Homo sapiens: one gene and its partners. The protein of the gene in region 2 interacts with the protein of the main gene of each other region in a pairwise test. Each region holds a gene or a part of one and is shown on either strand. Other genes may lie near its edges.

The links.
Region 1: the proteins of ZNF77 (region 2) and PRDX3 interact in binary tests that used the Homo sapiens proteins (3 or more experiments, as listed by UniProt).
Region 3: the proteins of ZNF77 (region 2) and FTO interact in binary tests that used the Homo sapiens proteins (3 or more experiments, as listed by UniProt).

What each region holds. Positions count from the first base shown.
Region 1 is NC_000010.11:119,174,143-119,183,928, forward strand, and holds the start of PRDX3 (thioredoxin-dependent peroxide reductase, mitochondrial isoform a precursor), read right to left. Parts: upstream 4,671-9,786; 5' UTR 4,649-4,670; coding exon 4,613-4,648; intron 3,012-4,612; coding exon 2,879-3,011; intron 451-2,878; coding exon 309-450; intron 1-308. UniProt on the Homo sapiens protein: Thiol-specific peroxidase that catalyzes the reduction of hydrogen peroxide and organic hydroperoxides to water and alcohols, respectively. Plays a role in cell protection against oxidative stress by detoxifying peroxides.
Region 2 is NC_000019.10:2,940,384-2,950,971, reverse strand, and holds the start of ZNF77 (zinc finger protein 77), read left to right. Parts: upstream 1-6,000; 5' UTR 6,001-6,131; coding exon 6,132-6,134; intron 6,135-10,588. UniProt on the Homo sapiens protein: May be involved in transcriptional regulation.
Region 3 is NC_000016.10:53,826,047-53,835,498, forward strand, and holds part of FTO (alpha-ketoglutarate-dependent dioxygenase FTO), read left to right. Parts: coding exon 1-445; coding exon of another isoform or gene 446-475; intron 476-9,452.

The DNA of each region.
Region 1 (9,786 bases), on a different chromosome or scaffold from region 2:
TTTTATTATGCCTACTTTTCTCATTTTTCCCCAGACCAGTGAAAACTTTTTCATAGACTGGCTTAGGGAAGCAGTGCTCCAGAGCACAGAGGTGTACTATAAAGAAAGCTGTCCTACCCCACCCCCGAAGTTTATCACTTGTAAACAAGCTACAGATCCCAGCTGTAATCAACAAGGCCATCAGTGATAAAGGGTCAGAAAGAATCCTTCCTTTCACAAGGGTATCTAGGGATAGACAATTCAGTGTGGGAACAGGATATGTGCTTGCTCTCAGAATGACACGAAAGCATCATAGAAATTACACTTACAAATCCAAAGGATAGAAGAAAAGCACCAAATATTTCCCCTTAAAGTCATCAAGGCTTAGGTCTTTGAACTCTCCATTGACAACGGCTGTACCCTTAAAATAGGGTGCATGCTGGGTGACAGCAGGTGCATGGCATGAGGAACCTGAAAAAAAACCCACACTCATATGGAGTTCATCATTTGCTATGTCAAGCACCTATGATTTTATTTAAACTTCTCATAATTAATTAGTAGTATAAAGTGCTTAGTATAAATCAAAACATTCGGTTCAACTGTACATCTTAGGCACAGTCATCCTTTGCCACCTGTGGGGGGATTGGTTCTAGGATATCGAAATCTACAGATGCTCAAGTCTCTTACATAAAGTGGTGATTTGCATATAATCCACACACACCCTCCAGTATACTTAAATCATCTCTAGATTACTCATAATACCTAATACGACGTAAATGCTACGTAAATAGTCGTTAAGCTGTATTGTTTAGGGAATGACAAGAAAAAAAGACTTTGTGTTCAGTATAGACACAACCATCCATTTTTCCCTCCCAATATTTTCGATTCAACCAACCACAGATGCAGAATCCAGATACAGAGGGCCAACTGTAATTTCTCCTTCTATAGTTTTAGATTGTGCACAAATTCAATTCCAACTGCTACAGAAACTAAAAAGAGGAAGACAAAGTAGGGATAGAATTAAGGAAGACATGAGACTAGAGATGGATTTTAAATATGGTTCAGATTTTGTCAAGTCTAGATGGGATGGGGCAGATGGCATGTAGGAAACAGCAGGAAGGAAGACAGGACATGTGTGTGGAGCAGCGTGTGGCAGTCTAATGAGAACAGAGAGTGTCTAAGGGTACGGAGTGAAGAGCAGGCAGCAGGCAGGAATGGTTGAAGGCCATGTTGCAACAGTCCTTAAATACTAGGCTGCTGGGTCTTCTTAGCAGGAAAGATAACAGAGTCAAGGGCGGAGTCTCGCTCTGTTCGCCCAGGCTGGAGTGCAGTGGCACAATCTCAGCTCACTGCAAGCTCTGCCTCCTGGGTTCACGCCATTCTCCGGCCTCAGCCTCCCGAGTAGCTGGGACCACAGGCGCCCGCCACCCCGCCCGGCTAATTTTTTGTATTTTTAGTAGAGATGGGGTTTCACCGTGTTAGCCAGGATGGTCTCCATCTCCTGACCTCGTGATCTGCCAGCCTCGGCCTCCCAAAGTGCTGGGATTACAGGCGTGAGCCACAGTGCCTGGCTGAGATGGGGGTTTTTAGGAAGATTAGTCCGGCAGGAGGGAAAGAGGAGCAGGAGGAAGGGGGAGACATGTTAGGAGGTGGTTTCAGTGATTTTTTTTTTTTTGAGACAGAGTTTCGCTCTGTCACCTAGGCTGGAGTGTAGTGGCATGGTCTCGGCTCACTGCAACCTCCGCCTCCCAGGTTCAAGCAATTCTCCTGCCTCAGCCTCCCAAGTAGCTGGGATTCCAGTAGCACACCACCACACCCGGCTTATTTTTTTTAAGTATTTTTAGTAGAGACGGGATTTCACCAGGTTGGCCAGGATGGTCTTGAACTCCTGACCTCAAGTAATTCGCCTGCCTTGGCCTCTCAAAGTGCTGGGATTACAGGTGTGAGCCACTGTGCCCAGCCTCGATTTCAGTGATCTTAGACGTATTGAGGGGAGGTATGGGGCAGAAAGAACAGAAAGGAATGGATGCAAGAGATGTGTCAAAACTGAAAAGGACTTGCTTCTACCCAGGAATGAGCGACAGAGTAGTTCCAATGTCAAAATGCCTGACACCGCCATGAACAGAAACAGGAGGCGCTGCTGGGGATGAGGATTCGAAACCAGTGGAGTAAAGTTTTAAGCCTGTGGTATCACATCACTACTAGAAATATTTTGAAGCTCCAGGGTAGTAAAATTGCGAAAGCTCTTAGAACATTTTGCCCACAAACAAAGGCTTTACTAAAGTATATCCCCACAAACCATTACATATTAAATACGGGCTTTTTCAAAGGCTAGTCAAATCTAGACAAGGTATTTTCAAATACCACTCATTATCTGAGGCTGATCTTAGCAAAGCCCATATCCTAGAGAAGGGAGTGTAAATCTCAAGAAACAGCTAAATTTCGCTCAGATTACAGATACCATTAGACAGGTCTGGTTCCTAAGTGGCCAGCTGGGGCCATTACACAGGTTTGAATCTTAGAGCAGCTGCCCTCTCAGGTCCCCCACAGGCTGCCCACCACTCACAGCTCTTCAGACACACTAGACTCAGAAGGCATCTGAGCTCCCAGTAACACCCTCCTCAACACAGTGGATTAGAAACTCTGACAACCAACATGGAAATGTGACAAGGGCAGTTTGCCTCAGTGATTCTCAACCCTGGCTGCACGTTAGAATCACCCGGCACATCCTGGTCTCACCCCACAGACTAACTTGTCTGGGGTGGGACGGGGGCAGTGCTGTGTTCCTGAAAGCTCCCAGGTGACTCTAACGTTTGGCCAGGGTTCAGAGCCCCTGTCCAGAGACGATGGTTCATTTTTCCTTTACCTGGCTCCAGCCAAGACATGACATAACACTTACTGGTGCTGAATAATTTTGCTTGACTGGAACCAGAACACAATAAATTTGTCAAGCTCGTTCTTCCACATGCAGCAGGCCTGAGGGCTGCAGTGGCAGAAATGCCCCAAGGAATGGCACTCACATGTCGGGCAACCTGGAAAGAGAAACTTTTTATTAGAAAGTTTTCCTGGACTGGTGACTGAAGGCTGAAAGGGCATCGTGCCAACGGTGGTTTCAGCTGTCCCTGTTCCTGTGAACCAAATAGCAAACCCCAAACTCTAAGAGCATGGATTGGATCTGCATGTTCTTAACACTCCCTTCTGCTTCCTTCTCCTAGGAGACTGGAAGGTGGAGAGGAACTATAAGAACACAAAGACCGGCTGGGCGCGGTTGCTCACACCTGTAATCCCAGCACTTTGGGAGGCCAAGACGGGTTGATCACCAGGTCAGGAGTTCGAGACCAGCCTGGCCAAGATGGTGAAACTCCATCTCTACTAAAAACACAAAACTTAGCCAGGCGGCGGTGGCGGGCACCTGTAATTCCAGCTGCTTGGGAGGCTGAGGCAGGAGAATTGCTTGAACCCGGGAGGCAGAGGTTGCAGAGCCGAGATCGCGCCATTGCACTCTAACCTGGGCGACAACTCCGTCTCAAAAAAAAAAAAAAAAAAAATCAGAAACTCCATGCGCTTAAAGCAACACAGGGTTCAGAAGCCAGGGGACTTGTGCAGGCTTTTCCCAGCACTATCTGCTGAGTATGTTCTACCATTTCAAGGTTTTCCTTAGAAAAACAAGGCCCCTCCAGCACCAGCGACAAGTAAACAAGAAGAGCCAAATTCAGCCTCTGGGAGTCTGTTAAAGGCTCAAGGGACATGTTTACTCAACTTTTTTTTTTTTTTTTTGAAACAGAGTCTCGCTCTTTTACCCAGGCTAGAGTGCAGTGGCGCGATCTCGGCTCGCTGCAGTCTCGACCTCCTGGGCTCAAGTGATCCTCCCACCTTAGCCTCCCCAGGAGCACTGACCACCATGCCCGGCTATTTTTTTTTTTAGAGACAAGGTCTCACTATTATTGTCCAGGCTGGTCTCAAACTCCTGGGCTCAAGTGATCTGCCCGCCTCGGCCTCCCAAAGTGCTAGGATTACAGGCGTGAGCCACCGCACTCTGCCGGTTTGCTCAACTTTAATGTTCAAAATGACTCAGGAGAACGAAAGGGGCTGTGTTGAACCCCACCAGAGAAAGCCGTGTACCAAAAGAGCACGACGCATTGCCCACAGTTAAGCAGGAAACAGCAGCAGAAACACGCGGGAGTGGGATTGGGAGGGAAAGCCTTTGTGAGTTTTTTAGCACTTTGCGCGTTTTTATCCAGTATTTAAGGGGCTGTTCACAGCAACGCCTTGATGTAGGCATCATTCTTTCCATCTTAAGTACACAGTCTGAGAAAGGCGAAGGCGCTTGCCCAAGATCACAGGGTCGGTGGCAGAATCAGGGCCAGGACCTTAAGTGGAGATGGGCCTGGGGACCGGGGACGCCGAAAGAGGAGGGACTCGGGGAAGAGACCGCGAGGATGGAGTGGGGAAGGGCGGTTCTGCGCAGGCGCATGGAACCTTCCCGGAGGGAGGCCTCTGGGTCCGTTACCCGCGGAAACCCTCCAAGAAGGGCGAATGGCCCTCATGCCCAGAAGCGCGGGGTCCTGTCTGAGAAGCACGTTCCCGGAGCCACCAGTGTCTCCACGCCTGTCCCCAGCCGACAGCCACTCACCGACGCTCGGAGCAACCGTCCTACAGCAGCCGCCATCTTCAGTGCACTCGGGCGCCACGGGGCGGGCAGAGACGCAGGGGCGGGGCCTACGGGGTGGTGAGCGGGCCCTCTGCTGGTGGGGGGGCGGGGCCGGAGGAGCCACCGCCTCCCCGCCTCCTGGAGACCCTGAGGGAGAAATTCCCTTTAAGGCTGAATGCTTGGGCAAGTGACACGTGGTTTTCCTACTGTCGCCCCAACCTTAAAAGAACGAATCCAGGCGGGGCATTAGGTATTTGTTTCCATATTTCCCACTGTTTTGTTAACCTTGTGTGGATTACTGTGTCTAGTATTTCTGTGACAGGATCCCTTTCTTATTTCAGCCTCAGGTAGAGACTTCCGGCTTCTGTATGAAATGGAATTAATTACAAATGCAGTTTTAGTCCGTTAATAAGCTAAGTGGGCTAGACACATCAAGGCTTTGTTGGCCTGAAATCCGCTGGAATTGTGTGTGGTCTAACATTTGGCCTCTCTTCCCAAAATTGGGAAAACTGGGACAAATTTAAAATTTGGTTTTTGTCTATTAATGAAGCCAAGTGTTCAGTGGTGAGCATAGTACTTGAAGCAACCACATCAAACATAGATAAAAATCACACCGTGGCCTTACAGTAAGTGTGACAAATTGCAGTCTTGGAGCTGGTATTTTCTTTTCTCTTTTCTTTTCTTTTCTTTTTTTTTTTTTTTGAGACTGGGTCTTGCTCTGTCGCCCAGGCTGGAGTGCAGTGGCATGATCTTGGCTCACTGCAACCTCTGCCTCCCGGGTTCAAGCGATTCTCCTGCCTGAGCTTCATGAGTAATTGGGATTCCTGAGCAGCTGGGATTACAGCCGCCTGCCACCATGCCCAGTTAAGTTTTTGTATTTTAAGTAGAGATGGGGTTTCACCATGTTGGCCAGGCTGGTCTCAAACTCCTGACCTCAAGTGATCCGCCCACCTCGGCCTCCCAAAGTGCTGGGATGATAGGCATGAGCCACTGCACCCGGTCTGAGTTGGTATTTTCCAATCACTAGTCATTCAATTAGCAACTTCGTTTCTCAAGTCTTCTTATCACCAAATATCACTTACTATTTTCTTTAAATTGGCTTTCTTTTTTTTTTTTCCTTTTCTTTTTTGAGACAGAGTCTCACTCTGTCGTCCAGGCTAGAGTGCAGTGGCACAATCTCGGCTCACTGCAACCTCTACCTCCTTGGTTCGAGCGATTCTTCTGGCTCAGCCTCTCGAGTAGCTGGGATTACAGGCGTGCACCACTAAACCCGGCTAATTTTTTTAGTATTTTTAGTAGAGATGGGGTTTCACCATATTGGCTAGGCTGGTCTTGAACTCCTGACATCAGGTGATCCTCCCACCTTGGCCTCCCAAAGTGCTGGGATTACAGGCGTGAGCCACCACACCCAGCCCAGTATATTTTCTAAAATCATCTCAGGTACCACTAGGCGCCACCCTGGGTACCAGTCCCCAGATGTGGAAAGGACTGCCTTGGATGTGTGGGGACACACGTTTCGACTATTTCACCTCACACCTTCCTTGTGTTTGTTTAATTGGTTTTAATTATGTCTGTGTTTAGCAGATGATTGAAAAGGAGACAATCATTTTGGAGCTCAAAATCGTACTGTAGGCCGGGCGCAGTGGCTCACATCTGTAATCCCAGCACTTTGGGAAGCTGAGGTGAGTGGATCACCTGAGGTAAGGAGTTCAAGACCAGCCTGACCAACATGGTGAAACCCTTTCTCTACTAAAAATTGCAAAATTAGCTGGGCATGGTGGTGCATACCTGTAATCTCAGCCACTTGGGAGGCTGAGGCAGGAGAATCACTTTAACCTGGGAGGCAGAGGTTGCAGTGAGCCGAAATTGAACCAGTGCACTCCAGCCTCAGCAACAAGATTGAAACTCCGTCTCAAAAAAAAAAAAAAAAATACTGTAGTTCACAATGGAATATTATTTATCCATAAAAGGAATGAAATACTGATATATGCTACAACACAGATGAACTTTGAAAACACTAGCTAAGTGAAAGAAGCCAGACACAAAAGAACAAATAGTGTGTGTTTCCTTTTATATGAAACATCTAAAATAGGTAATTCCAAAGGGACAGAAAGCAAATCAGCAATTGTTAGGGACTGGGAGAAGCTGGCATGGGGACTGACTATTTATTTTTTATTTTATTTATTTATTTTTGAGACAGAGTCTCCCTCTGTTGCCCAGGATGGAGTACAGTGATGCAATCTCAGCTCACTGCAACCTCAGCTCACTGCAACCTCTGCCTCCCAGATTCAAGCAATCCTCCTGCCTCAGTCTCCCGAGTAGCTGGGACTACAGGTGTGACCACCATGCCCAGCTAATTTTTTTTTGTATTTTTTAGTAGAGACGGAGTTTCGCCATGTTGGCCAGGCTGATCTCGAACTCTTGACCTCAAGTGATCTGCCTGCCTTGGCCTCCCACAGCGCTGGGATTACAGGTGTGAGCCAGTGCGCCCAGCCGGAACTATTTAGTAGGTACAGGATTTTCTTTTTTTTTTTTTTTTAATTTTATTTTTATTGATCATTCTTGGGTGTTTCTCACAGAGAGGGATTTGGCAGGGTCATAGGACAATAGTGGAGGGAAGGTCAGCAGATAAACAAGTAAACAAAGGTCTCTGGTTTTCCTAGGCAGAGGACCCTGAGGCCTTCTGCAGTGTTTGTGTCCCTGGGTACTTGAGATTAGGGAGTGGTGATGACTCTTAACGAGCATGCTGCCTTCAAGCATCTGTTTAACAAAGCACATCTTGCACCGCCCTTAATCCATTTAACCCTGAGTGGACACAGCACATGTTTCAGAGAGCACAGGGTTGGGGGGTAAGGTCACAGATCAACAGGATCCCAAGGCAGAAGAATCTTTCTTAGTACAGAACAAAATGAAAATTCTCCCATGTGTACTTCTTTCCACACAGACACGGCAACCATCCGATTTCTCAATCTTTTCCCCACCTTTCCCCGCTTTCTATTCCACAAAACCACCATTGTCATCGTGGCCCGTTCTCAATGAGCTGTTGGGCACACCTCCCAGACGGGGTGGTGGCCGGGCAGAGGGGCTCCTCACTTCCCAGTAGGGGCAGCCGGGCAGAGGCGCCCCTCACCTCCCGGACGAGGCGGCTGGCTGGGCGGGGGGCTGACCCCCCCCACCTCCCTCCCGGACGGGGCGGCTGGCCGGGCGGGGGGCTGACCCCCCCCCACCTCCCTCCCGGACTGGGCGACTGGCCAGGTGGGGGGCTGACCCTCCCACCTCCCTCCCGGAAGGGGCGGCTGGCCGGGCAGAGGGGCTCCTCACTTCCCAGTAGGGGCGGCCGGGCAGAGGCGCCCCTCACCTCCCAGATGGGGCGGCTGGCCGGGCGGGGGGCTGACCCCCCACCTCCCTCCCGGACGGGGCAGCTGGCCGGGCGGGGGGGCTGAACCCCCCACCTCCCTCCCGGACGGAGCGGCTGGCCGGGCAGAGGGGCTCCTCACTTCCCAGTAGGGGCAGCTGGGCAGAGGCGCCCCTCACCTCCCGGACGGGGCGGCTGGCCGGGTGGGGGGCTGACCCCCCACCTCCCTCCCGGACAGGGCGGCTGCCGGGCGGAGACGCTCCTCACTTCTCAGACGGGGCGGCTGCCGGGCAGAGGGTCTCCTCACTTCTCAGACGGGGCGGTTGCCAGGCGGAGGGTCTCCTCCCTTCTCAGATGGGGTGGCTGGGCAGAGACGCTCCTCACCTCCCAGACGGGGTCGCGACCGGGCAGAGGCACTCCTCACATCCCAGACGGGGCGGTGGGGCAAAGGCACTCCCCACATCTCAGACGATGGGCGGCCGGGCAGAGACGCTCCTCACTTCCTAGATGGGATGGCGGCCGGGAAGAGGCGCTCCTCACTTCCTAGATGGGATGGCGGCCGGGCAGAGACGCTCCTCACTTTCCAGACTGGGCAGCCAGGCAGAGGGGCTCCTCACATCCCAGATGATGGGCGGCCAGGCAGAGACGCTCCTCACTTCCTAGACGGGGTGGCGGCCGGGCAGAGGCTGCACTCTGGGCACTTTGGGAGGCCAAGGCAGGCGGCTGGGAGGTGGAGGTTGTAGCGAGCCGAGATCACGCCACTGCACTCCAGCCTGGGCACCATTGAGCACTGAGTGAACCAGACACCGTCTGCAATCCCGGCACCTCCGGAGGCCGAGGCTGGCGGATCACTCGCGGTTAGGAGCTGGAGGCCAGCCCAGCCAACACAGCGAAACCCCATCTCCACCAAAAAAATACGAAAACCAGTCAGGCGTGGCGGCGCGCCTGCAATCGCAGGCACTCGGCAGGCTGAGGCAGGAGAATCAGGCAGGGAGGTTGCAGTGAGCCGAGATGGCAGCAGTACCGTCCAGCTTCGGCTCGGCATCAGAGGGAGACCGTGGGGAGAGGGAGAGTAGGGAGAGGGAGAGGGAGAGGGAAGTCCAGGATTTTCTTTTGTGGTGATGAAAATGTTTTGGAACTAGATAGAGGTGGGTATAACATTATGAATTAACTAAATACCCCGAATTGTAAACTTTAAAATAATTAATTTTATATTTGGTGAATTTCACCTCAATTAAAAAAAAAATTAGAAAAAGGCCAGGCATGGTGGCTCATGCCTGTAATTGCAGCGCTTTGGAAAGCCAAGGTAGGAGGATCACTTTGTGCCCAGGGGTTTGAGACCAGCCTGGGCAACATAGCAAAACCCTGTCTCAAAAAAAAAAAAAAAAAAAAAGAAAGAAAAAGAAAAAGGAAAAGAAAAAAAAAAGAGAGAGAGAAAATGTAGAAGAAATAGGGACTAAAAACATTATATACTGTAGTCTACTCCAGTGATTTAATAGATCTAAAAGGCTCAGAAAACTGAGCCTTTTGGAGATGGAGAGACCTTCCCAAAATCACATCACTGGCTAGAAGCAGAGAGGTAGGGCAAGAACCCAGAAATTCCATACCACTGACCACCCAGCGTGTGTGTCTGATGGAGTTCAGCCTCAGCACCTTTTCCCCAGCCAACTCGTGAGATTACGTCATCCACACCCTCATCGTCTCCTCTTCTCCCTCATACTACAGGGTTGTTTTTTTGGTAGAAACAAGGTCTCGCTATCTTGCCCAGGCTGGCCTTGAACTCCTGACCTCAAGTGATCCT
Region 2 (10,588 bases):
AATTGGGCGTTGGAGGATTGCGCGAAAGACCACGCCCCCAACCTCGTCCCGGGACCTCGGTCTTGTTTTAGCCACGCCCCGGGGAGGATCCAGTACAAGCCACGCCCACAGCGCGATTCTGTCCCGAGACTTGCCCTCGAGGGGCGGATCTGCCAACAATGCCAATTATCTCCCAGACGGCGGAAACTAGCTTTTCCTGCTCAGCGATTGGACGACGTAGGTCGTCCCGCCTATCTTTGAGGCTCCACCAATCCCAAGCTCATTACTAGCCCACTTTTCAGCTCCCAGCCGCCCCGGAACCGGAAACGGAAGCATCCGTCTGTGACCCGCGGCGGCCGTCTCCCTCAGTGGCCGCAGCGCCTCCCGTGAGAGCGGTTTCTCCTCCTTGTACTGCTGGACCTGGCCCCGTATCTTCGTGGCAGAGGCCAAGCAAGGGGACTCCGATGCCGGGGCGTAGGGGGGTTTGGGTCAAAGGATGGGGGCAGAGTTCAAAGTGCAGGGGGCGGGCTCGTTTAATGGCGAAGTCCTGGCACCGCGCCCCAGGGAGGAGGCTCCGGAGGCCAGTGGAACCCCGCTAGACTTCAGGGGTCTTGGTTGGGGACGCGGGGCGTTTTGACCCCCTAGGCCTGAGGATCCTAGGCCTGAGTAACCCATCGGATTTGGAGGGAAGGGTGGGGTTTAGGTGAAATGTAAATACTGCGTGGTTTCCATTTGGCAAAGAGCAAGCTTGTAAAGGGGTCACCCTCGGGTCTGGGCTGCGAAGTGCAGCCGGGACCTGTTTCCTTGGGAACCACAAGATAAGACCGCTGTAGATTGTTATGTCCGGAAACCGCTTATCAGAGCCCTGCACCTGGGTTGGAAATGGAGACGGATTCTCTGTGTCCAAGAAAATCAGACCCTCCGGCCGGAAAAGGGAAGTTTATTCTTACTGATAAAATGTCAATCACTGTGTATGATTGTAATGGGCAAGGAAGGCATTTAGCGAGCTAGAAGACATTGATGGCTCAGAAAAAGGTGTCCTTGGCAAAAATACTGTTTTCTGTTAATTTTCCAACTGATACCATCTGGGTCTGTCCTCCCAGCCTGATGAATGTGTAGGCAGATACTTTCTCAGTCGGAGTTGATTTTTATTATCTTGATTGCTGCATCCTGTGCACAGAGGTTTTCTGCTCAGCTGGGCTTCATCCTGGGGTCCCAGTCCTGGCCCCAAGCCTTAATCAGCTCTCGGGTGATATTAGGCAAGTTGCCAAGCCCCTAAGTGCCTCAGTTTCCAGGTCTGTAAAATACATAACATTACCTGCATTTGTCAAATAGTGCTGTGTGTGGATTATTATTGGCAGCTCATCATCACCATTATCACCCTCCTGTAAACGTCTTGGACCCCTTAAGTGAAGACAGCAGGGTTACGGCGGATAAAATGATGGACTTCAGAGAAAAGACTCTAAGACCAAATAGAGTCTAAAGCAGTGATTATCAAAGAGGGGAGGAGAAATTTTACGCCCAGGGGACACTGGACAATGTCTGCAGACTTGGTTGTCACAACCGGGGATGGGGTTGGGGCGACTGGCATCCAGTGGATGAGGAGGTCTAGGGTGCTGCTCAACACCCTGCAATGAATAGCACGCCAGTCTTTTGGATTTGAGCCCACCTTAATCTCATTTTAATCGAATTGCCTCTTTAAAGGCCTATCTTCAAATACCTTCTGAGGTACTGTGGGTTAGGCCTTCACCTTACGGATTTGTGGGGACGCAATTCACCCGTTAACGCTATACATACACAAAAATTCATAGACTACACCTCAAAAGAAAAATTCAACATGACCATATAATACTATAAAATAAAAGAAGATGCAATACCTGGTTTGGGGTTGGATCTTCGGAGGACCAGCTGTAAAGACCATTTGGGGTATAATTGAAGGAAATACGATTATGGGCTAGGTATAAAGGAATGATTGTTAACTATCTAAAGTGCGAATATGAAGTGTGGACTTTTAGATAAAAATACAGATTTTTCTCTAAAATAGCATTTGGGAGGTGTTTAAGAGCAGAGTGTTACAGTGTCCTCAATTTACTTTTTTTTTTTTTTTTGAGACGGAGTCTCGAGCTGTCGCCCAGGCTGGAGTGCAGTGGTGTGATCTCGGCTCACTGCAGCCTCCACCTCCCGGGTTCAAGTGATTCTCCTGCCTCACCCTCCCGAGTAGCTGGGACTACAGGTGCCCGCCACCACACCCAGCTAATTTTTGTATTTTTAGTAGAGATGGGGTTTCACCATCTTGGCCAGGCTACTCTTGAACTCCTGACCTCGTGACCCGCCTGCCTCGGCCTCCCAAAGTGCTGGGATTACAGGCGTAAGCCACTGCCCCCAGCCACTCAATTGACTTTGAAATAATTCTTTTTTTTTTTTTTTTTTTGAGACAGAGTTTTGCTCTGTTGCCCAGGATAGAGTACAATGGCGTGATCTCAGCTCAACGCAAGCTCCGCCTCCTGGGTTCACGCCATTCTCCTGCCTCAGCCTTCCGAGTAGCTGGGACTACAGGCACTCGCCACCACGCCCAGCTGATTTTTTGTATTTTTAGTAGAGACGGGGTTTCACCATGTTAGCCAGGATGGTCTTGATCTCCTGACCTTGTGATCCGCCCAACTCGGCCTCCCAAAGTGCTGGGATTACAGACGTGAGCCACCGCACCCTGCGACTTTGAAATAATTCTATGTAGATATTGGCTGTCAGTCGGCTAGAACAATTGATCAGGAAACATCTCTGTCTTCACAAATTACCTGATATGTTGAGTAATGTGAGTATAACACGAATTTCATATTTGTTTATGTTCAGTTTCAACCCTAAGAAACACTAAGTGAACAGAAGAAATTGCACATAACTGAAGAGTCTGGTAGGAAAACAGAAAATGCGCGCACACACCTCAAATACCAAGTCACACTGTTTCCTCTGCTTTAAAACTTAACATTAGATTTCCGACAACCCTCTCTCCACCACTGCATACTAACTCTGGAAATTTAGATTCCCTTGCCCAATTCCACAAGCAACCTTTGGATCTTCTGCAAGGTACGTTGCTACATTTATTATAGTATTTATGTGTTTCTTTTCCTTTTTTTTTTTTTTTTTTTGAGACAGAGTTTTGATCTTGTTGCCCAGGCTGGAGTGCAGTGGCATGATCTCGGCTCACTGCAACCTCCACCTCCTGGGTTCAAGTGATTCTCCTGCCTCAGCCTCCCGATTAGCGGGGGTTCCAGGCATTTGCCACCATGTCCAGCTCATTTTTGTATTTTTAGTAGAGATGGGGTTTCTCCATGTTTGTCAGGGTGGTCTCGGACTTTGGACCTCAGGTGATCTGCCCACCTTGGCATCCCAAAGTGCTGGGATTACAGGCGTGAGCCACCGCGCCCGGCCTATTTATGTGTTTCTTAATGATGTAAGGTGAAAAGCTGTGCTACTGTTTACTTCTTCAGGGACTCTGATAATAGGCATGTTTTTCTTTCCTGTCTTTTGTTCCCACTGCTTCCTCTCTGACAGTTATTCCACTGTTTCCTATCACTTCCAATTTCTTTGTAGTTTCCTTGCCTCTTATCTTTGACACAATGTGAGTATCCTAAGCTTCATTAATATCCATTGATGAAGGCTGAGGCAAGCGGATCACTTGAGGTCAGGAGTTCCAGACCAACTTGGCCAGCATGGTGAAACCCCATCTCTACCAAAAAATACAAAAATCTGCCAGGCATGGTGGTGCAACATAAGACAAGCTTTGAGTAGCAAAAGATTGGAAACAAGTCCACTGTCTATTTAGAGAGACCTTGTTACATCAGCTTACATCATCTTACATCTGTAAGGAGTAAGGAAGTCACCTATTAAGATGAAGAGAGGTGGAGGATTTATTTTTTTCATTGAGCCACAAAAACAATTGTAATGCAATGTGTACACCATGGTACTTTTTAAAAATAATAAAGCGGGGGGAAACAAAACGTGTCGTTCAAATGGCGTTTTTTTGTTTGTTTTTGTTTTGAGATGGAGTCTCGCTCTGTCACCCAGGCGGAGTGCAGTGGTGCGATCTTGGGTCTGCAATCCCCGCCTCCCGGGCTCTAGTGATTCTCCTGCCTCAGCCTCCCAAGTAGTTGGGATTACAGGCATGTGCCACCACGCCCGGCTAATTTTTATATTTTTAGTAGAGACAAGGGTTTTGCCATGTTGGCCAGGCTGGTCTCGAACTCTTGACCTCAGGTGATCCACCTGCCTCAGCCTCCCAAAGTGCTGGGATTATAGGCGTGAGCCACTGCGCCCGGCCCTAGAGAATTTCTTAAAGTAAAAGGCTGTACTGTTCCTATGGTAATTGAATTCTTATTTTAACTCATTTGAGAAAATAATCATAGAAGTTTAAATAAATTTGAACTCGACGTGAAAATTCTGAATACTTTTATTCAGTTGAGCCGCAATTCCTAAAGCCTGGAACGCGACTGCTCATCTCCGAAAAGACTTTCCAGCTTGAGACAGAGTAGAAGTATAAACTCTATATCGCTTGCCATTTTACATACAAACATAATTGTCGTAATTCATGTTTTTACTGTGTCGACCTAAATAACAGGCTGTCTAAAAACGGTGGTAACAGTTCATTGCAGTGGGAATATGCGCGGCATAGCAAACTATGTGCTTATTCAGGGAGGTAAAGGAAGACAAAGGTTGTTTTTGGTTTTCATTTTTTTGAGACGGGGGTCTCTGTTGCCCAGGCTGGAGTACAATGGTGAGATCACAGCTCACTGCAGCCTCAATCCCCACGGGCTCGAGCGATCCTCCTGCTTCAGCCTATCAAGTCGTTGGGACCATAGGCGCACACTCCTTTATTCCCAGCTAATTTTTGTATTTTTTGTATATATGGGGTTTTGCCATGTTGCCCAGACTGGGACAAAGGTTTATAAAGGAAAAAAAAAATTTTAAATGAGGATTACATCATTTTTCAGAAATAATTATCCTTGTCTACAAAGATCAGTAACAAGGGTCACACCAGTCTGAGTGTCCCTGTAAAAGTATTTTTTGTTTAAGCCTGTGGTTTTTGTAGAGTCTTTTTCGTTATTAAGCATATAAATGTGAGACCTCTCTCTTCATGACCTTACGTGGTTCTGTTTGTGGGAGGGCTGCTTTTTTTTTTTTTGAGACTCAGTTTCGCTCTTGTTGCCCAGGCTGGAGTGCAGTGTCCTGATCTTGGCTCACTGCAATCTCCGCCTCCTGGGTTCAAGCGATTCTCCTGCCTCAGCCTCCGGAGTAGCTGGGATTACAGGCGCCCGCCACCGTGCCCAGCTAATTTTTGTATTTTTAGGAGAGAAGTGGTTTTCGCCATTTTGGTCAGGCTGGACTTGAACTCCTGACCTCTGATGATCCGCCGGTCTCCGCCTCTCACGGTGCTGGGATTACCGGCGTGAACCACCGCGCCCGGCCGAGAGTTTTAAGAACACAGGGAGCGCCTGGTGGGGTCCGGCCTCCTGGGGCCTCGTCGTCTGGTCTCCAGATCTCCAGGTCTCTGGACCCCAGGCGTCCGCGCCCACGCGGGACAGCACGGTGACGTCACGCACGCGGGTCCCGCCCCCACGCAGGACTCCGCCCCATGGGACTCCGTGCCCTTCCTCTCCTCCCCGCACGAGGGGCCGCTCCGAGGGGAAACTGAGTCTGGAGTTGCCGTGCAGTCAGGGAGGAGGACGCCGCGCCCTCCCTGGACTGGAGTGAGTTCTCCCAGATCCGCGGCTGCCCGGCTAGAGGGTCAGCCACGCGTGTTCTCGACGAGCCCGTCACTGAGGAGAGAATTATCCAATCAGGACAGGCAGGGGCGGGGCCTAGGGAACTGTCCAATCAGAGACGTTAATCCGAAGCGGAGCCCTGCCCAATCAAGGGCGCTAGGGGGACGGACTGGAGAATTCTCCAATCAGGGGTGCGGAGTCGACAGCACTGTCCAATCAGAGTCTCCACTTCCCGAGATCTGTCCAATCAGACCCCGAGGACGGTAAGCCGAGTTCCCCTCTGCCTTGCGCGCTTCCCCGCCTACCCCGAGCGGCTCAGGTGTCCTGTCGTGCTCACCTGCGCCGGTCGCTGGACCGCGGGGCGCTAACCCTGGAGAGCCCAGGAGCGGGCGGGACATGGTGAGTGCCGGGCGGGAGCCGAGCCCGGGCCCAGGGCGAGGTGGGGCGGCAGGAACCGGCTTCCGCCCGAGTTCGCAGCCGGAGAAAGCTGAGGGACGCGCGGGGCGGCGCACGACGAGCGCCTGGGCCCCGGGGACGTGGTCACAGCGGCCGAGGGGTAGGGCTGGGGGCAGTCTGGGGTGACAGCAAAAGCGGTCAGGGGCTCGAGGGGTAGTTTCTGGGGACAGTACAGGTCAGGAGTTTGGGGAGAGCTTGTGGGGACAGCAGAGGTGGTCAGGGGCTTGAGGCAATTTAAGTGGACAGTAGAGGTTTAAGGGGCACAGGGGCAGTTTGCGGGAACAGACACGGTCAGGGGCTCGGCGGCAGTTTGGGGGTTCAGTGGAAGGGAGTCAGGCTCAAGGGCAGATTAGGGGGCCAATAGCAGCGGTCAGGAACTCGGGGACAGTTTGAGGGGGCCGTAGAGGCGGTCATGGGTTTGAAGGGGCAGTTTTGGGGGACAGGTGATCAGGGGCTCGAAGGCAGTTTAGGGGGACAGTAGCTGCAGTCGGGAGTTTGGGGGCAGCTCGAGGGGACAGCAGAAGCAGTCAGGGGCTCAGGGGCACTTTAAGGGGGGCAGTAGAGGCGATCAGGGGCTTGAGGGAAGTTTGGGGGGACAGTAAAGGGAGTCGGGCTCGAGGGATGTGTTGGGGGACAGTAGAGGCAGTCAGGGGATCGGGGAGAGTGGGAGGAGAGGGCAGGAGCCGTCAGGGGCTTGGTGGTCAGTTTGGGAAGGTCTGCCAAGGAGGAGGTGGTGCCCTGTCCTGGAGCCTGTCAAATAATAAAATCCTGGGCCGGGCGCGGTGGCTCACGCCTGTAATCCCAGCACTTTGGGAGGCCGAGGCGGGCGGATCACCTGAGGTCAGGAGTTCCAGACCAGCCTGGACAACATGGCGAAATCCCGTCTCTACTAAAAATACAAAAATTAGCCCGGCGTGGTGGCGGGCGCCTGCAATCCCAGCTACCAGGGAGGCTGAGACAGGAGAATGGCGTGAACCTGGGAGGTGGAGCTTGCAGTGAGCCGACATGGCGCCGCTGCACTCCAGCCTGGCGACAGAGAAAGACTCCGTCTCAAAAACAAAAACCAAAAAAAAAAAAAAAAAAAAAAATCCTGGCTAGAGAAGGAGAGAGAAAAATAGGGATAAGCCCCAGCCTCCGAAACCTGCCAGGTCTCAAAATCAACCAGGAAAAGGCTTTACTTTCATACACAAGAAAAGGTTTGGAGGAACGTTTTAGGGGACAAGCAGAAAGGAGGTTGACAGTAAATGTACCTCCTCGTGGTCAGCTAGCTCAGGGGAGGTGACAGGGGACTCCACACTTACTGCTTGCTCAGACTCGGGGGGGCCAAAGTTCAGGGGCCTGCGGAGAGGACAGAAGGCTGAGTAAAGTTTGGGGAAGAAACGGGAGGCTGCGAACATGTGGTCAAGCTTGTGTAAACCCAAACGTAGTAAGGAAACTTTTATGAAAAAGGATTATTGCGAGGTATTGGGGGAGGGGGAGAAGGGGCTGTTGCAATAGGGAGAAGGGTTAGTTGGATTAGAGGCAGGAGAGTAATGCCAGAGGCTTGAGGTTCTATTGCAGTGGGGTGGGGGTATAAGCAACAGGGGCATGGGGACAGTTGATGATTGAGCTGCGGGACTAATGCTGTAGCCACAGGGAGACAGCTGCAGGGGGAGAGCTCTGTGACCGTCAAGTATGCAGGCATCTGAAGAGTTGGCTAGGCCTGGCGCGGTGGCTCATGCCTGTACTCCCAGCACTTTGGGAGGCTGAGGCAGGTGGATCACCTGAGGTCAGGAGTTCAAGACCAGCCTGGCCAACATGGTGAAATCCCATCTCTACTAAAAAATACAAAAATTAGCCGGGCGTGGTAGTGTGTGCCTGTAATCCCAGCTACTTGGAAGGCTGAGGCAGGGAGAATTGCTTGAACTCGGGAGGCAGAGGTTGCAGTGAGCCATGATCACACCACTGCACTCCAGCCTGGGCACACCTAACCTAGTGAATCATTTCTGATGACAAAGAATGGGATTTCGGAGGGTCTGAATCTGGCCTTGTCATCTGCGTGAATCTTATCTAAGTCGTATGGGAAGGGAGGGTCCTGGCTGTCCCAATTCCAGAGCACAGCAGGACGGGGTTTCACCTTTGCTGGTTTCCAGGAGCACAGAGCTGAAGTCAGTTCAACATTGTCACCTGACAGCTGCGAACAGCCTCGTCTGTGTCCAGCTCAGCATTGGTATTGTTCCTATTTCAGCCCCAGGTTTTAGTAAATGTAAAATAATGAGGCCGGGCATGGGGATGCGCACCTGTGGTCCCAGCCACTTGAGAGGCTGAGGGGGGAGAATCGCTTGAGCCCACGAGTTTGAGGCTGTACCACTCCACTCCAGCCTGGGCAACAGAGCTAGACCCTGTCTGGAAAAAAAAAAAAAAAAAAAAAGAGCCGGGCGCGGTGGCTCACACCTGTAATCCTAGCACTTTGAGTGGCTGAGGTGGGCGGATCACAAGGTCAGGAATTCAAGACCACCCTGATTGACATGGGGAAACCCCGTCTCTACTAAAAATATCAAAATTAGCCAGGTGTGATGGCAAGTGCCTGCAATCCCAGCTACTTGGGAGTCTGAGGCAGGAGAATCGCTTGAACCGGGGAGGCGGAGGTTGCAGCGAGCTGAGATTGTTTCACTGCACTCCAGCCTGGGAGACGGAGCAAGACCCTGTCTCAAAAAAAAAAAAAAGAATAAATGCTTTTTGCCTTTTTTTTCTTGTCCTTAGTGAGGGCAGTCATTGTCTTGGATGTGTTCTTTGCCTTCTGCCACTGCCTGGTGTTATACCATGGCTTAGCCCGAGAAGGCTGCTGTGGAAAACTCTCAAACTCGGAAGACGTTGCATCTTCCATTAGGATGAGGGGAAAGGCGCACACACAGCCCCATGCCATATTGTGAGGTGGGCGAAGGTGTGGATTGAAAACATTCATGAAACTAGCACTGACTTAGGCAGGGTGCAGAGTTTGTGACAGTGGGGGACCCTGCTCCGTCTCCTGTTAGTATCTGCGCATCAGACAGATGCGCATTCTGTAATATACGACCCACAGTACAGAGAAGCGGCAATTCCGATTAGGGGACTGACGAACAATTTATCATGAGGATAATCATTAACTGATACCTGTTTTCTGCATGAGACCCTAATCATTAACTGATACCTGTTTTCTGCATGGGACCCTTTGTGGGACAGAAAAACTTCTAGATCTTCTAGAATCCACCACTCACCCCTTTGTCCTTTAACACGGGCTGAAAGTGGTGATTTGGCTGTGTTCTTACTTATTTTTATTTTTTTTTTGAGACAGTCTCACTCTGTCACCCAGGCTAGAGTGCAGTGGCTTGATCTCAGCTCACTGCAACCTCTGCCTCTGGGTTTAAGTGATTTTCCTGCCTCAGCCTCCCAAGTAGCTGGGATTACAGGCATGCACCACCACACCTGGCTAATTTTTGTATTTTTAGTAGCGGTGCGGTTTCACCATGTTGGCCAGGCTGCTCATGAACTCCTGACCTCAAGTGATCCTCCCGCCTTGGCCTCCCAAAGTGCTGAGATTACAGGTGTGAGCCACCTCACCCAGCCTTTTTTTTTTTTTTTTTTTTTGAGGTAGGGCGTCTCTCTGTCACCCACGCTGGAGTGCAGTGGTGACATCGTGGCTCACTACAGCCTCAACCTCCTGGGCTCAAATGATCCTCCCACCTCAGCCTCCTGAGTAGCTGGGACTCCAGGTGTGCCCCACCATGCCTGGCTAATTTTTGTATTTTTTGTAGAGACAGGGTTTCACCATATTGCTCAGGCTGGTCCCAAGCTTCTGGGCTCAAACAGTCCTCCCACCTCAGTCTCCCAAAGTGCTGGGAGTATAGGCCTGAGCCACCAAGCCCAGCTGCTGATAGCATTTTATTATAAAATTGAACACATGTAGAACTTTTGTAAGACAATTACAGAGTCAGTGGAAACGTCCTCAAGTGAACAGTGTGTAACGACAGCCAGGCCATGTCTTCGAAGAAGCCTTGGCATCCAATTTGAAATGATGTGTAATGGTAGGCTTCTCCCTCCAGATCAGGCCAGTATTCTACATTCTTTTTTTTTTTTTTTTTTTCTTTTTTGTGATGGAGACTCACTCTGTTGCTAGACTGGAGTGCAATGGCGCCATCTCGGCTCACTGCAACCTCTGCCTCCTGGGTTCAAGTGATTCTCCTGCCTCAGCCTCCTGAGTAGCTGAGACTACAGGCGTGTGCCACCACGCCCAGCTAATTTTTGTATTTTTAGTAGAGATGGGGTTTCACCATGTTGGCCAGGATGGTCTTGATCTCTTAACCTTGTGATCCGCCCACCTTAGCCTCCCAAAATGCTAGGATTATAGGCGTGAGCCACCACGCCCGGCCTATCCTAAA
Region 3 (9,452 bases), on a different chromosome or scaffold from region 2:
GGCTGCACCTACAAGTACCTGAACACCAGGCTCTTTACGGTCCCCTGGCCAGTGAAAGGGTCTAATATAAAACACACCGAGGCTGAAATAGCCGCTGCTTGTGAGACCTTCCTCAAGCTCAATGACTACCTGCAGATAGAAACCATCCAGGCTTTGGAAGAACTTGCTGCCAAAGAGAAGGCTAATGAGGATGCTGTGCCATTGTGTATGTCTGCAGATTTCCCCAGGGTTGGGATGGGTTCATCCTACAACGGACAAGATGAAGTGGACATTAAGAGCAGAGCAGCATACAACGTAACTTTGCTGAATTTCATGGATCCTCAGAAAATGCCATACCTGAAAGAGGAACCTTATTTTGGCATGGGGAAAATGGCAGTGAGCTGGCATCATGATGAAAATCTGGTGGACAGGTCAGCGGTGGCAGTGTACAGTTATAGCTGTGAAGGTACAGTCTGCTCTTGGAAAAAGCAGCCCTGTATGTAATAATATGACCCGAGTTGTTTAGGCTCTGGAGATACACACGCATATACATGAACATGTTTGCATGTGTGCTTGCGTGTGTACATGCACATGCGTGTGTGTGTATCATGTGTCCTTTTTAGTCTTGTCACACCTGTATGTCTGCAGAATATGCCTCTTTCTCATCTGGCCATGCTAGCTGGCTCATTGTTATACTGTACTCAGAATATTTTCGCACGTAAGCACTGCTGTCATTTGTCTCTCTTGTGCCCAGGAGAGCAGCCTCTTGGTTTCATACAGCCGACTGTCTTCTCTACAGCTCAGAGGAGATTGTACAGTTGCTATAATTAACTTGCTGATAAAGAGCTGGGAAAACAAAAATCTGTCAAATCTTTCCAGGTTCCCACAGGTGCACATTTCCAGACCTGCCAAAATATTTTATTATGGTTGACATCACTATCTTGATGGGTGTGATTTGTCAAATATGGACTTGTTCTTGGCTTCCTATAGTTTGTAACTACTGTCCTTCCTTGCCAGAAGCAGTTGAGGTAGGTTTTGTAAGCAGACAGTCCTCTATTTTCAGGAAACTCCCTAGCTCTTTACCCAATTCTGCAGTTTTAGACCTTGTTGGGTGGCTGTGGTAGACTTGTTCTTGCATTTTCTGATGTATAATCCCCTTGAAACAGATCGTAGGCTACCTCTTAGTAGCCCACCCACATTTCTCTTCTTCTATTATTGTTTCTGTGTGTTTATGGCCCTCATTTTTCCTTAGAATAGAATTACAAAAATGGTAGTTGAACAGATGGAGGAGAGCATGACCTCTGTTGACTTTCTTTTGTGTCTGATTATTTGGCAAAGGGATACAAGACATAGTATTAGCTCTCCTGTCTGATTTACTGAAAGATGTTTGGAAAACCAGAATTCTGGATATCCCATCAGGGAATGACTGGAACTTTCCAGGGTCATTATTTTCTGACAACTCTAGTTATTTGATTGGATTTTTGTTTGTTGTTGTTATTTGTTTACTAAAATTACTGTTTTGGAAAAGAGATTTAAGAAAAAAAAGATCTTTAAAGTACTCTTTAAATTTCTTACAATTTCCCAGTCTCAAAAATTTCCTCAGAACTACTAATATTTTTTCTAACTTTATCTTATGTCTTCAGTCTGAAACAAGGAACTAGTTTAGCATTTGGAAATTTCACCACTTTCTCTGGCATCTCAAATAATGATGCTGACCTAAGAAAATCGCTTGAAGGGATTTAACGCTGTCCTAATGGAAAGAACGGAGATCCTCTGATCTTTAATAAGGACTTGCCAGGGATTTAAGAACTATCACATCCAAGAACTCTGATGTGAACGAACAATGGAGTTAGTTTCTTTCTTAAGGAGACAACTCTCCAAACCTGAAGCAGTGGTATGTGATAGTACAAAGCTCTACAAAGATGTCTTTGTGCTCCCAATTACTCTGAGCCCTCCAGTTTAATAGTCCTATTGTACTCCCTTCCCGTGGGTGATCAAGTAGTTTTTGAAACCTAGAATATCTTTCAGAAAGGAATTTAAATGTCTAATGAATAGTTTCTATGCTCAGGAGTAATTAAGACTGACAAAGTATACAAATATAAATTACATATAAATATAGAAATGTTGGTACTTAAAGAGGGAACTGTAGAATTTGAATCTGTAAGAGCGGTGTGCAAACTCCTTTGTTCTCTTTTTTTTCTTTTTTTCTTTTGAGACGGGGTCTCGCTCTGTCGCCCAGGCTGGAGTGCAGTGGTGCGATCTCCACTCACTGCAAGCTCCGCCTCCCAGGTTCACGCCATTCTTCTGCCTCAGCCTCCCAAGTAGCTGGGGCTACAGGCGCCCGCCACCACGCCCGGCTAATTTTTTGTATTTTTAGTAGAGACGGGGTTTCACCGTGGTCTCAATCTTCTGATCTCATGATCCGCCCACCTCGGCCTCCCAAAGTGCTGGGATTACAGGCTTGAGCCACCATGCCCGGCCTCCTTTGTTCTCTTAACTGCAGAAATTCTCAGAACTCCATCTAATAATAATAGCAATACTGGGAATGCTCATTTATTGAGCACCTACTACGTGCTACATGCTGTTATAAGCATTTTACATGCATTAACTCATTTTGTCTTCCCAACAATTCAAAGAACAAAATAGTAATGAAGTACTATTGCTATCCTCATTTTACAGATGAGGAAACTGAGTCACAGAAGGTTGATTAACTTGTTCATGGTGATGCAGCAAGTAATTAGCAGAGTTAGGATTTGAGGACAAATATCCAGGCTTCAGAATCTTAACACCTAAGGCTATGTGCATTATGAGCAGGTATTTCTTATCCCAGCAGTGTAGCCGTCTCAGGGATTTTATTTTATTATTTTACTTTTTTAATTTTTTGAGACAGAGTGTTGCTCTATCTCCCAGGCCGGAGTGCAGTGGCACGATCTCGGCTCACTGCAACCTCCGCCTCCTGGGTTCAAGTGATTCTCCTGCCTCAGCTTCCCGAGTAGCTGGGATTACAGGCATGCACCACTACTCCCAGCTAATTTTTTATAATTTTAGTAGAGACGGGGTTTCACCATGCTAGCCAGGCTGGTCTCAAACTCCTGACCTCGTGATCTGCATGCCTTGGTCTCCCAAAGTGCTGAGATTACAGGTGTGAGCCACTGCGCCTGGCCAGGGACTTGGATTTTTAAAATGTCCACCTTCTGGAAAGGTTAAGGGGACATTCCACTTGCTTTTTCTTTCAGGTCCTGGTGTCTTCCTTTCTCCAGCTTTACTTCTCACCCACATCTGCTGTAGCTTTCCAGCACATACTCTCAGATGATTGGAATGCATCAGATTATCTTATTCGATGAAACAGAACCTTTCTGTAGGTGTCTGGCTGTGTGTCAGACGGCATACAAAGCATGTGGCTCTGGGTCAGATGGTGTACAAAGCATGTGCCTTGAAACTCTATGGTGGGCGCATGTCTTCTAAGTGACAAGTGATATCTGTTTAGTTTTCTGGTCTTATAATCCTTGGCAGAATGCCAGAACTATGGCAAAGGTGGACTTGAAGAGAATCATTTGGTTTAAAATTTTGGTTGAGGTTGAGAAGGGCTTAAGGAGGTCATAGAGAGTGGACACTTCAGAGAATTGTATTTTTTTCTGTGTCCTTGAACTTGTTTGTCAATGAGCTGTTCTAGACAGTATGGGAACTCCAAAGATAAATCAATGGCTTTCTCACTTTGAGGTAATAGGGAGGTAATAGGTGGGCTCTCGTGATTATAATTATGAAATGATGAAACATTGGGTTTGAAAGAGACTTTTGAAATCACTTGATTCTAGCCTTTCATTTTACAAATGAAAACACCGAGAAGGGAAGTGGCTTGGCCAAGGTCACATTGCTACTTAGTGATAAGAGCAGGGATTTAAGTTGGAAAGTGTTCCTTGCCACTGGAGAGGTTCACGTAAAATGCACTGGGAATTCAGATACAGAAGTGATTGCTTCCTGCTGAAATTAAATTCAGTTGAAGCTTAAGATCTTTCAAGACTCTGCTCTCAATACCTTTTCCCAGGGAAATCTTCTTGTAGATTTATAATGAGCCAGTCATCCCTCTTTGGTTTATTTTCATGAGTAGAGGTCATTGAGAAGTAATTTGTATAGGATACGTGTAATTATATACTAAATTCATTGGCTTTCACATGCCGTTCTAGTTAATAGATATCTCCAGTAGGAAGATTGAAATGGTACAATTTTTAATCAGGAATGGCTTCGGGGAACCATATGTAAATAGGCAGAATATTTGATTTTCCTATTCCAGCTTTGCTGGCAATTGCTTGTTACTCCTAGCTATAAAAAACGAACTTTAGCGGGGAAGGCATTAAAAACCCAATGTTTAATATGGTCCAGCACCTTGTTCTTTGACTGGAACACCTTCAGAAACATCACTTAGATCAACAGTAACTATTGGCTACCATTTTTGTTTCTTTGTCTGGAAGGAAACATTTTCTGTGAAATTGTCTTTCTAGAAAGAAAAGCAATTCTTAAGATTTTAAACTAGTGCCAAGTATTGCATATTCTTGACATTATTTTCCAGACCTCCCACAAGGAGCCAGGAAGGCAGCTGGGCGCGGAGGCTCACAACTGTAATCCCAGCACTTTGGGAGACCAAGGCAGGTGGATCACAAGGTCAGGAGTTCAAGACCAGCCTGGCCAACATGGTGAAACCTTGTCTCTTAGAAATAGAAAAATAAGCTGGGCATGGTGGTGCGCACCTGTAGTCCCAGCTACTCGGGAGGCTGAGGCAGTAGAATTGCTTGAACCTGGGAGGCAGAGGTTGCAGTGAGCTGAGATTGCGCCACTGTACTCCAGCCCGGGCGACAGAGTGAGATTCCGTCTCAAAACAAACAAAGAAACAAACAAAAATCCAAAACCCAGGAAGGCTCACAAAAGGAAGAAACCGATCCATGTTTCCTGTTGAGCATGTGATAGGCTGGAAAGTAGAGACTTTGCAATAATGTTCTTGGAATTCTAGGATTTCCATTCATGTCTTTGATTTGGGAAAAATTGCATCCCCTTAAGGATGGAAATTTGTTCCCGTAATTCTTGAATCTCTATTTTAACATGACTTGCTCTATATTTCTCAGCTCATCACTGAGACCATGAAAAGCTAGTTTATAATTACAGCTTGGAGTTTTGGAGTATTCATAAAAACGCTGTGATGTTTAATGTTATCTTAGCGTCCCAGCATCCCTGTCTAAAATCTCAAAGCTTATTTGACCTAGCTTTTTTTTATTGTATCATGCTATGCCTTGTCAGTGATTTTTGAAATCACTTATACTGCTCAGTAAAACTTGTTTGGTCTTATAAGTCACATTTTTGGGGGTGACCATCCAGTTATTTATTCATCTAACAATAAGGTCTCCCATGAAGAGCCAAGAAGGCTCACAAGAAGACCAAAGGGGGGGAAAAAACTTATTTGATCTACAAAGTTACATTTTTTTCATGCCTATGCAATTATTTTTTCATTTAACAATAAGCATCTACTATTTGCTAGTCAGTTGTCTAGATGCTGAGCATGTATCAGTGAACAAAACAGACAAAAATCCCTGCCCTCATCAAGCTCACATTCTAGCAAGGGAAAACAGAAAATAAAAGTAGATTGTGTAACAAGGGTGAGGGATAATCTTACAATTTTAGGTAGGAGAGCCAGGCAAGGCCTTGTTAAAGGGGTAACATTTAAGCAGATTGGACGGAGAGAATGAGCCACTGAGAAATTTGAAGCGGGAGCACATAGGCGGGAAGATAGAACATGATTGGGATGTTTCAGAAGCAACAAGTGTGGATGGAATAGAGTGAGAGAAGAGGAAATGAAATGAAGACAAAGGGACAAGTAAATGGGTGGCAGAAGGTAGGGCTTTGTCATGTTAGAATACAAAGTAGTAGGTTTGGATTTGGAGTGAGATGGGGAGCCACTGAGGAGTAGAAGAAGGGAAGCAACACCAGAAACAGGAGAGCTCACAGAGGTGACCAAAGTAATCCAGACTAGGGATATGATGGTCCAGATCAGAAGAGGCAGAGCAGGGGAGAAATGTGTAAATACAGTCCTGTAACTTTTTACCAACAAAGAGAGTGGCAGTGTTTCAGCACCAGTGAGAAAGGATAACCAGCAGTGGCATCTCCCATTTGTCAAGAGAAGGCTAAGCCTGTAAGAATGGCTACATTTTCTCCCCTCTGTGAATGGCTTTATTCGGGAATAACTGACATACAATAAGCTATACATATTGAACATTTATAGTTTTATAAGTTTCAACACACCTGTGAAACTATCCCCACTATCAAGATAATGAACATACCCATTATTCCAGAAGTTTCCTTGTGCCCCTTTGCAATTCCTCTTCCTGACATATCTGTTTTCTTTTTTTATTGTTTTTTATTTGTTTGTAGAGACTGGGTCTCAATATGTTTCCCAGGCTGATCTTGAAATCCTGGCCTGAAGAGATCCTCCTTGCTCAGCCTCCCAAAGAGCTGGAATTACAGGTGTGAGCCACTGTGTCAGCCTGGATTTGTTTTCTGTCACTAGATGAGTTGGCATTTTCTAGAATTTTAACCAGATGGAATTATATATGTGCACGGTTTTTTTGTCTGGATTCTTTAACTTAGCATAGTTATTTTGAGATTCATCCATGTTGTTATGTATATCAGTAGCTCATTCCCTTGTATCCTTTTTTATTTCAATAAAATATACATAAAATTAATCATTATAACCATATTAACTGTACAGTTGAGTGGCATTAAGCATCATCCCACACCAAATCTCTGTACCCATTTAAACAATTACTCCCCATTTCTCCTTCCCTCATTTCCTGGTAACCACTGTTCTGCTTTCTGTCTGTATTATATTTGACTATTCTAGGTACCTCATGTAAGTGGAATCATACAATATTTGACCTTTTGTGTCTAGATTATTGATATGGTTCAGCTGTGTCCCTGGGCAAATATCAACTTGAATTGTATCTCCCAGAATTCGCACATGTTGTGGGAGGGACCAAAGAGGAACTGGTTGAATCATGAGGCCGGTCTTTCCCGTGCTATTCTCATGATAGTGAATAAGTCTCACGAGATCTGGTGGGTTCATCAGGGGTTTCCGCTTTTGCTTCCTCCTCATTTTCTCTTGCCACTGCCATGTAAGAAGTGCCTTTTGCCTCCTGCCATGATTCAGAGGCCTCTCAGCTATGTGGTACTGTAAGTCCAATTAATCCTCTTTTTGTTTCCGGTTTCGGATATGTCTTTATGAGCAGCATGAAAACAAACTAATACAACTATTTTACTTAACATAGTGTCCTCAAGATTCATCCATGTTATGGCATGTATCAGAATTTAATTCCTTTTTAAAGATGACTAATATTCCATTGTATGAATATACCACATTTTGTTGATTGATTCATCCATCGGCTATTCATAATAGCCATCTTTTGGCTATGGTGGATAAAGTTGCTGTGAACAAATATCTCTGTATACAAATATCTGTGGGAATCTCCGCTTTCAGTACTTTTGTGTGTATACTTTTTTTGTGTATATACTTTTGTGTATGTACTTTTGCGTAGGATTGCTGGATCAAATGATAGGTCTATGTTGACATTTTTGAGGAACTGCTGTACTGTTTTCTACAGCGACTGAACTGTTTTATATTCTCGCTGGCAATGCGCAAGGGCTCTAATTTCTCCACATCTACGCCAACACTTACTGTTTCCTGTTTTTTGATAACAGCCATCATAATGGGTATGAAGTGGTATCTCCTTGTGGTTTTGATACACATTTTCCTAATAATTAATGATGTTGAACATCTTTTCATGTTCTTAGCCATTTATATATCTTCTTTGGAGACATGTCTATTCAAGTTGTTTGCCCATTTTTGAATTTGGCTGGTTTTTAGTTGTTGAGTTTTGTGAGTTCCTTATGTATTCTAGATATTAATTCCTTATCAGATATATGACTTGCAATATTTTCTTCAAGGATAGCTGAACTTTTTTTTTTTATTTTTTTTGAGACGGAGTCTCGGTCTGTCACCCAGGCTGGAGTGCAGTGGCGCGATCTCAGCTCCCTGCAAGCTCCACCTCCCAGGTTCACGCCATTCTCCTGTCTCAGCCCCCTGAGTAGCTGGGACTACAGGCGCCCACCACCACACCCGGCAAATTTTTTGTATTTTTAGTAGAGGTGGAGTTTTACCATGTTAGCCAGGATGGTCTTGATCTCCTGACCTTGTGATCCACCTGTCTCGGCCTCCCAAAGTGCTGGGATTATAGGCGTGAGCCACCGCGCCCGGCCTGAACTTTTGATGATATATTAATGTGATGAGCACGGGATCAGAGAACAGTGGAATAGACTTTACTGTCCATGACATTGATGAGGCACTTAAATTCTATACTACTGAATGACATCATTCATATTGGTATTAATTAGCTATGGGACCTTAAGCAAGTTACTTAAATTCTTTGTGACTCAGTTTTCTCATCTGTAAAATAGTGATCAGAGCTGTATCCACCTCAAGATTGTGAGAATTAAACACTTGTAAAGTGCCAAGAACATAACAGCAGTAATTAGCACATAGTAAGCATTCAATACTGTGTTATTTTTAGTTTTTATCAAAATTATTCATTCATATCATTTTTACAAGTCAAATATTTTTATAAGGTTTGCTAAGGAAAAAAAAGCAGGAGTTTTTACACCTTTTCTTCCCATTTTCATTTCCACAGGCAATCATTTCTACTCTTTTCTTTCAGGTAATGCTTTTGGTAGTTGATAACATACTTACATTGTTTTGAACATTATATATTGGCTTCCTGATATGGAAGGTGAAGATTTACCTAGCTCTCTTCTTTCTCCCTGCCTGCCTACACATGTACACGCTTCTGATTCCCATTATAGATTTACTGTAATTTTGATTATATCACTATTCAGCCTTTATAGTTATCATATATATACATGAGAATGCCTTCCAAAACCTGTGATCTGTTATCCTTTTCTTTTCAACTTTTTTCTTGCATTAATGGTAGTCTTGCTTTTTGTGTATTTGTATAGTTTTCTATGTAGTTATGACTAATTAAATCCCTTGCTATCTACCACATCTCCTCTTAAGAGCTTCAGAACCATCAGATATTCTGTCCATTTCATTTTCTTGGAGCACTGTCTTCCAGAGTCTTCTTGTCTGCTCCAATCTGGTGTTCTATGCCTGATGCATGGGGATCCCTTTCTGTGACCTCTTCATTGTAATCCAGCGGATTCCTTTACTTCTCTCTTTTGTGAACTCCTCACGTTCCTGCATCCTGGCCTTGCTCTTTCCTGACTGTTTTCTTATTTTGGTGGAGCATGTCCTACAATGTTTTCTTCAGAAAGATGCTTAGGAGGTAAATTTTTAAGACCTTAAATGTCTTCAATCATCTTTATTCCACCTTGGTATATGTAGGTTCTTCCAGTATGAAAACCTTGTTAGGAAATAATAT